Linked DNA regions of Homo sapiens: region 1 is linked to region 2. Evidence: fine-mapped expression QTL. A gene starts in region 2. The other region holds a variant in brackets. All regions are shown on one strand. Distances are between the middles of the regions.

Region 1 (2,916 bases), 99 kb after region 2:
GCATAACTAGGATTACAGGCGTGTACCACCATGCCTGGCTAATTTTTGTATTTTTAGTAGAGATGGGGTTTTGCCATGTTGGCCAGACTGGTCTCGAACTCCTGACCTGAGCTGATCTGCCCGCCTCGGCCTCCCAAAGTGCTGGGATTACAGGCATGAGCCACCGCTCCTGGCCCATCCTTGACATTTTAACAAACGACTCGAAGCTAGTATGATCTCATACATCATTCATTAACCATTTTTTTTTTGTCATGTTAACCTTCCAGACTATCCAAGAAGCCTCAGCTTTGGGGAAAGTGAGCTATAGTATCAGAGTTGAGTGAAATGATGCAGAAGCCACCCAGACACCCAACAAAACTGGCTTCAGTTGATGGAATTATCTTGGCTCTAGAAACCTAATATAGAGGCTAGTCTTGATTCAAGTAAGAATGTTGCAATCAAAACCCTTGATAAGAATCTCTTGGGGCTAAAAGCAGTTTCCTTTATATAACATTGGTACTTTTGTTAACAGTAAATAATTTATCTTCAGGATGTTTATTTCCTTAATAAGACCAGGCTTTTTATTCCATATAGTCAGATAATGTTTTTAGAATTGGGAAATTTATGGCAGATCATAAAGCAGATTTGTTAGCCCAGCTGATTTCCCTTCCCTCCTGGTTTTGGGGATTGCTTTATAACATTGTAGATGCGTGTGAGTACGTATGTAGATACATACGTAACCTTTAGTCTTTCAAACAATGTCTTAGCTTTTGCATTAAGTTTCAGACAAGATAATGTGTGCATCATTTGTTAGAAGCTAACAATGGGATAGGCAAGCATCCTGAGGAAGGGGAACATTCAGAGTGTCCTCATCCTCTGCTGAGTCATCATAGTGCTCTGTGAGTATGATACAGTGGCTGGGGAAATGAATGACCTAGTGCAGGAATAGGCAATTGGCAATGTAGTCTGCAATTGAGGCAGTGGCCAGAACTGCCTTATTACTCCTTTTCATATCTTTGTCAAGTTATTTCTCTTAGCATATTTTTTGTCTCTGTCTTTTTTGTTCTCTTTCTGAGTCTGAATTTTTCTCCCTTTCTGTTTCTCCATTTCTCTCTCCCTGTCACTCTCACTGTCTTTCTCCTTATTCAACAGACATTTCTTTGAATCAACAATTGAATTGACTCAACAGTTGTGGGAGAAACTGCAGGAATAGTAAAATATAACACAGTTTGTTTAGGGTGATAAGCTGTATCCAGATGCAACCATAAATGGAATATGAAGACTAAATTGGGTGGTTGAATCTGAAGGCGTTCAGAGAAGTCAGCTTGGACAGATGCATCTGGGAGGACAGATATGGGATAGAGCTAAGTTTGGAAGCCTACTAAGATTTGGATACTAGAAAGTAGAGAAGAGGATATAAACATGAAAGGTGCTCTGTAAAGGGATGGAAAAATCTGAGTTGTCGTTTCAGACAGAAATTTTGATTGCATTTTACTGTGTTCAAGATGTACAGAACAGCTTCTGTACTAGGTAGAAATTTAGATTTCGGTTTTTCAGAGTACTCATTGAATACACTGTGAACTCATCCATGCTACTTTAGGCACTGATGTA[T/C]ATGTCTGTGTCACTCAGTGACAGGCAGGAGACCCTGTTGCTGTCACAGTTACCTGTTTGTCTTTGGGCTGCTGTAAAAAAGTACGATAAACTGGATGGCTTATAAACAACACAAATGTATTTGTCATGTTCTGGAGGCCGGAAGTCCAAGATTAGGCTGCCAGCATGGTTAGGTTCTGGCGAGGGCCTTCTTCCACGTTGCAGACTGCTGACTTCTCGTTGTATCCTAGCATGGTGGAGAGCAGCGTTGGGAAGCAAGCTCTCATGACTCTTATAAGGACACCAGTCCCATTCATGGTTACTGCTGTACTCTTTACTATAGCTGTTTTGGTTAGGGACCACCAGAAAAAGACATGAATGAATTTTTTTTTCTTTTCATTTTATGCTGCACAAAATAGAAATCTTACCAACAAAGTACATTGAGGTCCTGGTAAGAAAGGCTGTATGAAGTTGTAAAAGATTGATCATTATAGTCATTATTTCCTTGGCTATATGCCATAATGTAGTCATTAGCAGTCCTAAATTATATGACTAAGAAAATGAAATAGCTGTAAGAAGAATACCTACTGGCCTTTTAACTTAGGCAGTTGTATACACAGATACTTCTGGCATTGAGGCTGTTTTTGTTAACAGTAAGATATTTGCTGGCATTGCTGCCCCAGGGGAAAATGCCAGAGGAATACCAATTCTGTATTCATAATTTATTCCATTTCATTTGGTTTTAAAATGCTTTCTATCCTTGGACAGAACCTACACAGTCAAATGAGTTGTAGGCATCCAGGTAAAAGAACATCTGTGGCTGATTACTGGTGGCTGCATCATAGACAAATCTTGCCACCAGCTGGTAGTCACATCTGGATAATACTATATCACATGACTACTCATGGTTAAGCATTTCTTATGGTCTATAATATGGTGTTAATTACCATTAGTGAAAAACCCATATGTCATTCTAGATTCCCTAAAATTTACCTTAATTTGATGCAATCAAATTAAATGCAATTGCTGTCTTCCCATTTTCCCCATATTAAAAAAGAAACAGATGACACACACATGGGGCTGGGGGGTGGGGCAGTGGGGGGCAGAGAGTAGAGTAAAGAGATCACATAGTAAGAAATGCCAAACTTAAGGTAAGTGCTTCAAAGGGCATCTAGATTCCGTAGTGAGAACCTGAGAATAAAACTCATGCATGACAAACACTTCTTGCTCCTTAAGATCTACTTCAGGACCGCTGGCAGACTTCAGTTGATCTTTCAGGATAGTTTCTGAGGGATGCAGTCTTTAAGATCTGCATTGTATTTGCACTGGACTATTACAGGAACTGCA
Region 2 (2,916 bases):
GTTGGCCAGGCTGGTCTCGAACTGCTGACCTCAAGTGATCCACCGGCTTCGGCCTCCCAAAGTGCCGAGATTACAGGCATGGGCCACCGCGCCTGGCCATCCCCAGTGTTTCTAAACGTGTCAAGTGTGATCCAAATTTCAAAGGTTTGGATTTTTTCTTAGATGACCTGATAACTTAGATTCTGCTTTTTTAGCTTTCTTGTCTCAGTGTACTGGACAATTTGCATTATTTCACGGAGGGCTCAACACTGTCAGTCAGCCAACAACGTCTCATCCCCAGGATACACCACTCCTTGAAACTTTCTTTTCTACTTGGTCAGTCTGTTAGGTTCTCAGGACGAGCGATTGCAGACCTGAGGTGATTTGAATGTCCTTGGTAAGAATCTATCCTCAAAGGGCCTTCCTGCTTCAAATGCCAGGTTATAGAAATTCTTCCACTGGGAGAGTTATTCCTTTGGATTAAAGCAGTACCGTGCCAGTGTTCTGCATTTTACATTTAAGGGGGGCAGACACATGAAGTCACCTTTCTGAGGTTTTCTGCAAAAGATTAGCTGTGGATCAGATCAGGTCTAGGGCAAGTATGAAAGCACTAGTGACCTTGGGGAGGGGGAGGAAGCTCTGGGATTCGGCGCTAGGGAAAAGTGGAAGAGGACAAACTTTTAAAAAATCCGTTACTGGGTATAGGCCACAGAGTGTCTTTCAGATTACAAGATTTTAAGATCTGGTGCTCAGACTCTTCTTGCTATGCTCCCCCCGGGTCCACCCTCCAGCCTCCCCCAGGCCCGCCTTTCTTCCGCAGCCCCGTGCCGGTCTTCGATCCCCACCTCTCCAGAAGAGCGCCGGCGGCTGCCGCGTACCTCCTTCCCCGCCTCTCCCACCGCGCAGCGCCGCGGGCCGGCGCCGCGCTTCCTACAGTCCTACGAAGGGGAGTAAAGCAGAAGACTAGCGCACTCTCCCTCAATTGTCACCCTCCAGCTTTTTCCCCCGTGCCCAAGGCTTTCGGTCACCTCTTCATAAATAATAAAAACCAGAGTCCAGAACCTGAATAGGCAACCGCTGATCGGTCCAGCTCGCTTCCCCGCCAGTGAAAAGCAATCTTATTTCAGCGTCAACGCTCTATGTCTTGCAGTCCGATTTCGGCTGACACACCCGTGCCGCTGTCCCCGCGCCGGGCCCTCGAGTCCTGTCACCTCGGGCAGCCTGCGCCTGGCTCTGGGGCCTGGGCCTCTCCCCTCCTCCTGCCCGCGGACCTTGCCGCCCCGCCTCCAGCCCGTGCCACGGCGGCCGCCATTGGCGCGGGCCCATCCCAGAACGGCGCCCATTGGCCCGGTGCGAAGCCATTCACCCAGCGCATTCCGCCGCCCGCAGGCTTGCGGGGAAACTTCCTTATTATTGTGACGCCGAAAACGGAGAAACCCCGGGTCCGGCGAGAGGGGCTGTGACAGTCGGAGTCCCAAGCTGCGGTTCGGCTGCTGCCGAGGTGCGCAGGGCGGGGGCCGGGGTTCCAGGGAGGGGGGTACGGCGGAGCTGCAGCCGCGCTGGGCCGCGTTCCGCCTGGCACTGCAGTCAGCGCGCGGCTCCCGGAGGGGCGGCTGCGGCTCCTCCCGTGGCTCCGGCGGCGGGGGCTGCAGGCACCTCCAGAGACGACCTGGGTCTGGGGCGCGGGGAGGTTGGGGCGCGGCGCCCTTAGTACCCTGCGTACGCCTCCCTGGCGTTCTCGTGGGCTCGCCCTCCGGTCAGAGAGCCCCGCGCCGGGAAAGGCGAGACAAGCCTTCAAAATGGGAGCGCCTCCCGCCCGCGCTCGGCCGCCCTCCCGCCCTGCCGCCCGGGAGGAATTGCGACGCAGAAAGTCAAAAGGAGGATAGTCCCTATGCTCGCCCCCTGCCCCTATTTAAATTCTGGGGTTCCAGGGACCTCCGTGCAGTGAGGGGCGCGGACGCTTTCAATTGAAATGGGAGCTGGCGAGGCCCTGGCATTTTGGGGAACCTCAGCGGCCGCGAGGAGTTTGCGCCGAGGACGCGGTGCACGGCGTCCGCGATGACAGCGCCGGCAGGGCTGCGGGGCCCGGCACCACCCACTTCGCGGAGGCCGGGCCGGCTCGCCTCTCCCGGGTCCGCCTCCTGGGCGGGGCCGGGGGCGAGGGTGTGTGCGGACACGTGTGTACGGGTGTGTGTGTGTGTGTACGCCGACACGTCGGTGCGGACCGACGCGGGGGTGTCAGGAGCTGGGACGGCCGGGGGCAGGTGAGACTTGAGTCATTTGTGAATGTGTGGAGTGGGCAAACCAGGGCAACCAGACCGAGAGGAGCATGTGTAACCTGAAACAGGTGAGCCTATGGAGACAGTACCTAATGCGACTGTGCACGGAATATGTGTATGCAGCATGAGCTCCAGGGAATAAGTATTTGAACTTTGCTGTTGGTCTGTCACTGTTTCTGGCTGCTTTCTGATTGCATTTTACATCAGCTTTCAAATGAGCTCAATTAGGAAGTACCTAATTCAGAGAAAAGCCTTCCAGGATTTTGCTTGCATTCATCACGCATAGAATGCTTTGGGAAAGACGATTCAAGAGCTCTCTTCCATTTGTATGTGTCTTCTGGCTCTTTCCACAAATAAGAAGCTATTTCTAGAACCTTTTATTTGATGATTAGATAAGATCAAGTGAGCTGATTTTTCAACTCTAGACTTGAGAGAAATGAAAAAATAAAAAGTTTTAAATGCGGTGATCGGGTATCATGTTTTAGTCGGCAGATTACTGTGAAGCTCTCTCCTTTTGTACTTTCCTTTACCCTGGGGGAGGAGGGAGTAGCATTATAAATCAGAAAAGCAAAGTACATGGATTGCATATCCTAAAGCAAAATAATTGAATTACATATTTTACATCATGGTCGTACCGCCTTCGAGGCTAGGAACTTTC

What was found. PIP is the estimated chance that this variant, and not a neighbour inherited with it, causes the effect.
Region 1: its variant is the best candidate, but not a certain one, in a credible set for the expression of HERC3 in whole blood (TOPMed, PIP 0.66).

What each region holds. Positions count from the first base shown.
Region 1 is chr4:88,689,703-88,692,618 of GRCh38, forward strand. The region is part of intron 23 of HERC3 (HECT and RLD domain containing E3 ubiquitin protein ligase 3); the gene reads left to right. Among named protein-coding and RNA genes, the nearest start is that of NAP1L5, 6.7 kb to the right of the region's middle. The variant T/C (reference allele first, on the strand shown) is at 1,591.
Region 2 is chr4:88,591,095-88,594,010 of GRCh38, forward strand. It overlaps HERC3 (HECT and RLD domain containing E3 ubiquitin protein ligase 3), which reads left to right and starts at 1,386. Exons shown (of 26, transcript NM_014606.3): 1 at 1,386-1,480. RefSeq lists silencers at 892-951, 1,122-1,681, 2,002-2,411.